Linked DNA regions of Homo sapiens: region 1 is linked to region 2. The links come from fine-mapping of genetic effects on gene expression. Tissue or cell type: whole blood. Region 2 holds a variant in brackets; the other region holds the start of a gene. All regions are shown on one strand. Distances are from middle to middle.

Region 1 (4,000 bases), 35 kb after region 2:
GTAGAGAAGTGAGAGATCAAGAGATCGGTTCAGTCCGGGGGGATCCCTCCCCCACCCCTCCCAACAACACACACCTTCGCCAAGATGTTCAACGAGAGTTGAGGACTTATCCCATCCTCTGGTTAAAGGTTTGGCTCCCTACTGCCTCCCTGAGCAGGGCCCCCCGCCTGGAGAGCCCAATACCCAAGATTCCAGAGTTAGAGATGGAATATGACCCAACAGGGAAAGTGAAGCTCAGGGAACGGCGGCCCTGGTCCAAAGTCTGGCGTACAAGAAGGGCGCGCACCTCTGCAGGATCCCGGGCGCGCGGAGTCGGCCAAGGGTGGCCGGGGGAGTGTGTCTGCTCCGCGCTCCCAGTCTGCGCTCCGGCTTCTCTGCAGAAGCTGCCGCCAGGCTTTCCTGCCACCCGCCCACGGCCCCGGAGCTCTGGGCACAGCAAGCCAAGCTCCGGGTTCCCGGCTCCTGGTTCCCGCGCAGAGTCGTTGCGGGGATGCTGGAAACGAGGTGTTTCCCGGCCCTACATTTTGCATATTCCATCCCCCCATCCTCCCAGACTTGCTGTGTGACCTTGAGCAAGTAGCTGACAGTCTCGGAGCCTCGATTCTCAGCCCGACCTTAGGGGTTACAGAGGAGACTTTGGTCACCTACCGCTGTTCCCCGGGCTCCCGCGCGCGCTGCTGGTGGCCTCTCCCTCCCGCCAGCTCTGGGGCCGCGGCAAGTCTGTGGCAGCTCGTCCGCTGGTCATCCTACCTCCCCGCCTCCCCGCAGTTCTTTTTCCCTTTCACTTTCTTTCTGCAGCGCTGAGCTCGGGCCAGGCTGTGGAGCAACCAAGCACCTACTGTGGCCACCACGTGCTTTATCAGAAGTGGCATCCCAACTGCCTGGGGCATCCAAGAGGTCCCTGCCTCCAGTCGGTTCCTCACAGTGGCCAGCCCCACTTCGGGGAGAGTCCCAGGCCCCGGGCCAGGAGCCAGGAGCTAGGGAGCCACTTGGGCAAGTGATCTGCAAGTCCTGAGTTGCAGGGAGCTTGTCCCCACCCCTGGGTGGGTCTCTGTTTCTCTCCAACTCAGTCCAACCGTGAAAGTGGCAAACCACCTCCGAGGGCACATGGCCCCTGAGATGAGCTAACTGAGCTATTCACTCCTCTGATGCTGGCCCTAGGGAGGAAGAGAAAATCCCTCAGGTACCTTCCATGGATGGAAAACCTGTGTTACCATGACCACACCCCCAGCCGTGGCAAGAGCCCTGCCGGTCCTTTTCAGAGGTCTTGGATTCCTGCTGGGTCCTCCAAGGCATGAGACTTTGAGGTGGTCACTTTCCCTTTTCAGGCCTGAATTTCCTCATCTGGAATTGAGGGAGGGGGCAAGGTTACCTCTGACTTCTCCCCCTCCAACACTTTCCCGTAGCAACTTAAGGCTGCACCCAACCACACCGGCAGACCTGTCATCAGTCTCTGGGTTCAAAGCAAACCATACATTTCAGGGGAGTCTGAGAAAAGGGATACCACCCCTTTAACCATCCAACAACAGCAATGCCAATAAAATTGAGCTCCTATGAGCTCAATTCCAGTTCCTATAAAATATTGGACACTGTGCTAGGTCCCTCATCATTACCCTTTCATACAGGCTTTCCCACAGGTCCATTGTACACTCCAGGAAAATTGACTCGAGAATGTAAACGACTTCTTCAGGGGCACACCCTTCCCAGCCAACGGTGTAGCTGCCATGCTGCCTTCAGAGCCGGTGCCAGGTGTCTGCACTGTGCTCTTCCCACCATCTGTTCCCCCGTCCCCTGACCCTTTTTAAACAACACCATTAGGAAACTGGGGGGAGGGCAGCATCCGCCAGCTCTCCCCAGCTGCTGAGGGCTCAACAGCTACACCTCAAGGCTGACTCCAATTTTGGTTTCCCTGCTTCTCTGGGTATGGAGTGGAGTCTGGCAGAGGTCCCGTCCTGCAGAGGCACCCCTCAGTATTTACCCAAAGGGAGGCGAGAAGACCTTGCTGTGGGCCGAGCCAGGCCAGCATGCTGAGAGTTAGTGACACACTGCCCGAAAGTCTGACTTCTAGAACCTTTCGGTGCTGATACATGGTTCATACTCCAGACACCTGGCTGACCTGAAGTCTCCCTCCGGTGGAAGGAAATAGACAACTCTTTCACATCTTCCAATGGCCTGCCCCAGCAGGACACAGACTCCTGTTCCCATCCTCACCCCCATCCCCAATTCAGAATGGTTTCTCTGTTTATCTGGAATGGCAGGACCAGCTGAGACTGCACGCTAAATTAAGATGCTTTCCCGGCCTTTTTACCTTGGGGCTCTGACAGGTAGGACCCAGCAGGGCGTGGAGCCAGGCAACGCATTGTGTAGGAATCCCAGCCAGGCAGCAGCTCCCGGAGTCTGGCAGCCCCTCCTCGTGCCCTCAGCTTCCCCAAGGATGCCTTCGGATGCCCAGCTCAGAAGCACACAGCCTCATCACTAGCCTCATCACTAACCAGTCACCAGTTGGGAGCCCGCCAAGCTAAGCCAACATGCAAAGAAACAAGTGAGGGATCATCAAAAAAACTCTCCCTGCAAGGTGGCCCCAAGCGGTCAGATTTCTGTTTCTGAACACCCTCTAATTTTACCACACTCCCTTAAGCCCTCCCCACACCTCTGAAATTAATTTCACTTCCTTACTGTGGACTGAATTTGGTGAAGACAGAAAGTTGCACAGAAAGTCTGTTGGGGGAACCTTCAACAGTCTGACGTTCAGAAATGATGATCACAATGGAACCGCACTGGTGCCAGCTGCCAATATCTGCCACCTTCTGCAGGATGGGGCCAGTATCATAGCCCTCCGCCCAGATGCCTCAAGACAAGCTGAGAGCCTCTGCTGGGGACTTCTTAGATGCTGCTCTCCTCTACCATGCCTACTCCCACACCAAATTGCCCTGAATTTCTCTGGAGATCATAAGTGGCCCACCTGTCATTTTCATCCCAAGACATTGGACTAAAACATAAATTATACCAAAAGAGTGTTAACCCAAATATGGTACCCTTGTAGTCAGATGGTTTGGGGTGACCCGCCAAAGTGATGCTAAATAATACTGACTCCCATAGGGAGAAAGTTAGTGTCTTTTCCAGTCTCTGCCCATCCTCCTGGTGGTATCAAGGAGGAAGTCTCAGCTTGGTGTGAACATGTCTTTAACACCTCTTCTAATATATGATCACTCTGTTTTATAGAAAGCAGCTCTCTAGCCTCAGAGCCTTCTACAGTCAACAGTATCTTGCTATAATCTAACATCACTCTGCTTTCTTGTTAAATGGTTACCTCCTGTTTTTGCCATTTTTTCCCTTTATAATGGGACGTAAAGTTTTATTTGAATATAAAGTAGATGGCTGGGCCAGGTGGCTTGTGCCTGTAATTCCAACATTTTGGGAGGCCGAAGCAGGAGGATTGCTTGAAGCCGGGAGTTGGAGGCTAGCCTGGGCAACATAGTGACACCCTATGTCTACAAATTGTTGGGGTTTTTTTTGTTTGTTTTTGTTTTTTTTTAGACGGAGTTTCACTCTTATTGCCAGGCTAGAGTGCAATGGCATGATCTTGGCTCGCTGCAACCTCCGCCTCCCGGGTTCTGGGTTCAACTGATTCTCCTGCCTCAGCCTCCCGAGCAGCTGGGATTACAGGCACCTGCCACTATGTCCAGCTAATTTTTCTTTTCTTTTCTTTTTTTCTTTTTTTGAGACGGAGTCGCGCTCTTTCGCCCAGGCTGGACTGCAGTGGCGCTATCTTGGCTCACTGCAAGCTCCGCCTCCTGGGTTCACGCCATTCTCCTACATCCAGCTAATTTTTCTACAAATGATTTTTTAAAAATTAGCCATGTATGATGGTGCACAACTATAGTCCCAGCTACTCTGGAGGCTGAAGTGGGAGGATCGAGTGTGCCCAGGAGTTGGAGGCTGCAGTGAGCTATGATCATGAAATACACTCCAGCCTGGGCAACAGAGTGAGATCCTGCCT
Region 2 (4,000 bases):
AGCCAGGGGCATGCTAGGCCCTTCCCTCGGCCTAGATCTCATTTACTCCTCAAGACTCTGAGCTATGGGCTCTTATCTCCATTTTACATATAGGGAAACTGAGGCACTAGGCGATCAAATAGCTCACACAGGGTCACACAGCCTGGATCAACATTTAGAGCAGACTTCAAGGGGATGAGAAAAATAAGGACAACGAAGGGCCGTTTAGTTTAAAAATATGGTTAAATGCATTCCATATAAAGAGCTGTCTTTTATTCTGCAATTATGTCCTTTGAACTTTTTCAATATTAGAATGATCATTCTTTGGTAAAATTATGGTGCCAGCAGTGGGTATTTTGTTGTTATTTGTTTGTTTGAATGAGCATCCTTGATAAACATTAAAAAACAGTAACCGCGCACGGTCACTCGAATTCATTCCGAAATGTTCTCGGCCTCTGAAATCCTGAAGTCTGAGAACACTGGCCTCAGCAAAAGGCCACAGGATCAGAGTTTGACTCCAGGATCTGGCATTTGGCTCCCTGCTAAAGGCCTTGGCAAATCCCTTCACCCTTAAGTCTTGATCTCCTCAAATATTTCACCCCAATCTTATGGGGGTTCTTGGATTAAGGCATTCGTTGTTAAATATTGACCGCTTGCCTACTATGTGCCAGGCCCAGGGAGGAAAGTTGTGGGCCAAACAGACGAAAATCCCTGCCTTCTGGGTGCTGACATTCCAGGGGGGAAGATAGACAGATAATCAAAGAAATCGGAAAGCAAGCTGATGTCTGAGACAATGAATCATATGGAAATATACAGTGGTGAGGGGGATGGAGTTTTTTTTTTAACCATGAGGGGAATGGAGTTCTATTTATTTATTTATTTATTTATTTTTGAGATGGGGTCTCACTCTGTCATCCAAGCTGGACTGCAGTGGCGTGATCTCAGCTCACCGCAACCTCCGCCTCCCGGTTTCAAATGATTCTCCTGCCTCAGCCTCCCAAGTAGCTGTGACTACAGGCACCTGCCACCATGCCCAGCTAATTTGTTTTGTATATTTAGTAGAGATGGGGTTTCACTATGTTGGCCAGGCTGGTCTCAAACTCCTGGCCTTGTGATCCACCTGCCTCGGCCTCCCAAAGTGCTGGGATTACAGGCATAAGCCACTGCGCCTGGCCAGAGTTTTATTTTTAACTGTGAGGGTCAGAAAAGACCTCACTGAGGCCGGGTGTGGTGGCTCACGCCTGTAATCCCAGCACTTTGGGAGGCCGAGGTGGGGGGATCACGAGGTCAGAAGATTGAGACCATCCTGGCTAACACGGTGAAACCCCGTCTCTACTAAAAATACAAAAAATTAGCCAGATGTGGTGACATGTGCCTGTAGTCCCAGCTACTCGGGAGGCTGAGGCAAGAGAATCACTTGGACTTGGGAGGAGGAGGTTGCAGTGAGTCGAGATTGTGCCACTGCACTCCAGCCTGGGTGACAGAGCGAGACTCCACCTCAAAAAAAGAAAAAGAAAAAAGGAAAAAGAAAGAAAGAAAGGGAAAGAAAGAAAGAAAGGAGGGAAAGAAAGAAAGAAAGAAACAGGGAAAGAAAGAAAAGAAAAGGCCTCACTGAGTAAAGACCAGAGGAGGTGAAGGCATGAGCCATGCAGATATCTGGGGAGAAGTATTCCAGGCAGAGGGCACAGCCGGTGCAAAGGCCTGGAGGCAGAAGCATGCCTAGGAGGTTGAAAGCCAGCAAGGAGGCCCTGTGGCTGGAATGGAGAGAGCACCCAGCGAGTGTAGGAGATAAGGGTGAACAGGTGAGTGGGGACTGAACTGGGGAAGGACTCTGTGTACAAACGAAGTCCCTGTAGGGTTGTGAGTGGCTAAGAACCCTGATTTGACAGACAGATGAGGTCTACAGGGTGCCTGGGCACAGTAGAAGCCTGAGAAAATGCCAGAAATAGTCTTTTCCTTCCTTCCTTCCTTCCTCAGAACCTCCTCGGGGGCTTCCGGTCTCCAGGTGGCTGATCACCCGGCTCTAGGCTGTTCCACCCCATGGCCGCTGTTCCCCAGAGCGCAGTTCCGATCTTGAACTAGGGGCTTTTTCAGCTGAAAATAATTTAAGGCCAGAAAGGGCCCTCAGTTATTGTTTTCAGACATT[T/C]CCCCTTTTCAGCATCATTTTTACCTCTGGACAAATTTAGCACCTTGTCTCTGTTCAAAACAAGAGACACTGGCTTTTTTCTGGGGCACAGGGGAGCAGTGATCAGGGAGAGCTGATAGCTTGTGGGTGACCAGCTGGGGGACCACGGGCAAGTCACTTAACCTCACCAGGCCTCCGTCTCCTCATCTGTAAAATGGGGAAGATGATGACTGTCTGTCTTCCACAGTAGCTCTTGAGATTAATGAGATTATATATAAAATGCACTGAATTATAAGCTGGGCATGGTGGCTTACACCTGTAATCCCAGCACTTTGGGAGGCTGAGGTGGGAGGAACATCTGAGGCCAGGAGTTCAAGACCAGCCTGGCCAACATGGTTAAAGCCCGTCTCTACTAAAAATACAAAAATTAGCCAGGTGTAGTGGTGTACACCTGTAATCCCAGCTACTCGGGAGGCTGAGGCAGGAAAATTGCTTGAACCGAGAGGTGGAGATTGCAGTGAGCCAAGATCATACCACTGCATTCTAGCCTGGGTGACAGAGCAAGACCCCATCTCCAAAAAAAAACAGCACCGAATATACCACAGGCATAACAACTCCTTCCTAATCATTAGATGATCTAGACCCCTACCAAGGAACAAACATTCATTTAGCTTTTTCTGTGGAAGGAGCTTAGGGCCAGGCTGACCTGACCTTTATGACTTTGGATAAACAATTTAAAGTCTCTTGTTCTCAGCATTGCCATTTGTACAATGGGGAGATGATGACAATGCCTGTAGAGGAGGGTGGCCTGAGATAATTGAGATGGAAGGTGAGCTGCAAATTTAAAAGCCTGTTCTGGCCAGGTGCGGGAGCTCGCACCTGTAATCCTAGCACTTTGGGAGGCTGAGGTGGGAGGATTGCTTGAGCCCAGGAGCTCGAGACCAGACTGGGCAACATGGTGAAATCCTGTCTCTACAAAAAATACAAAAATTAGTCAGGTGGGGCATGCCTGTAGTCCCAGCTACTAGGGAGGCTGAGGTGGGAGGATCACTTGAGCCTAGGGAGGTTGAGGCTGTGGTGAGCTGTGATTGTGCCACTGAACTCCAGCCTGAGGGACAGAGTAAGACTCTGCCTCAAGAAAGAAAAGAAAAGGAAAGAAAAGGAAAGGAAAAAGAAGGAAGGAAGAGAAGGAAGGGAGGGAAGGAAAGAGAAAGAAAGAGAATGGAAAGAAAGAAAGAGAAAGGAGAGAAAGGAAAGAAAGAAAAGAAGGAAAGAAAGAAAGAAAGAGAGAGATAGGGAGGGAGGAAGGAAGGGAGAGAGAGAGAGAAAGAAAGAAAGAAACAGAGAGAAAGAAAAAGAAGAAAAGGGGGAAGAAGGGAGGGAGGGAAGGAAGGAAGGAGGGAGGGAGGGAAGGAAAGAAAAGGAAGGGAAAGGAAAGAAAGAGGAAAGAAAGAGAGAAAGAAAGAAAGAAGAAAGAAAGAAAAAGAAAGAGAGAAGAAAGGAAAGAAAGAAAGAAAAGCTATATTCTGACAGATCTAAATATAATAATTATTGTGCTTTCTTGGGGCCCATGTATGGTGGGCTGCCCCTCCTCAGTGACCCAGACACAACTGGACTCCCTAGAGCCTTGCCTAGGTCTCCATTTCTGTCACCCCAGCAACACTGCCTAGGGTGTGGCCCCCAGCCCTGGCCACACATAGAGCAACCAACTGTCCCAGTTTGCCTGGGACTAAGGGGCTTCTTGGGATGCAAGACTTTCAGTTTTCAAACCAGGATAGTCCCAGGCAAGTAGGGTTGCTTTTTCATCCTAGCTGCACATCAAAAGCTCCTGGGAATTTCAAAATGGGGGAAAGATTCTCCCTGGGGAGGCCATCCCTTGGCTGTGGAAGTAAACAA

Evidence for each region. PIP is the estimated chance that this variant, and not a neighbour inherited with it, causes the effect.
Region 1: it holds the start of CIITA, and the variant in region 2 is fine-mapped to the expression of CIITA in whole blood (TOPMed, PIP above 0.99).

What each region holds. Positions count from the first base shown.
Region 1 is chr16:10,875,691-10,879,690 of GRCh38, reverse strand. CIITA (class II major histocompatibility complex transactivator) reads right to left here and starts at 2,489. Exons shown (of 20, transcript NM_000246.4): 1 at 2,309-2,489. The coding sequence starts at 2,360. RefSeq lists enhancers at 516-635, 716-765, 2,186-2,235, 2,276-2,355, 2,396-2,465 and 1 more.
Region 2 is chr16:10,910,812-10,914,811 of GRCh38, reverse strand. The region is part of intron 13 of CIITA (class II major histocompatibility complex transactivator); the gene reads right to left. Among named protein-coding and RNA genes, the nearest start is that of DEXI, 30 kb to the left of the region's middle. RefSeq lists an enhancer at 2,355-2,404. The variant T/C (reference allele first, on the strand shown) is at 2,126.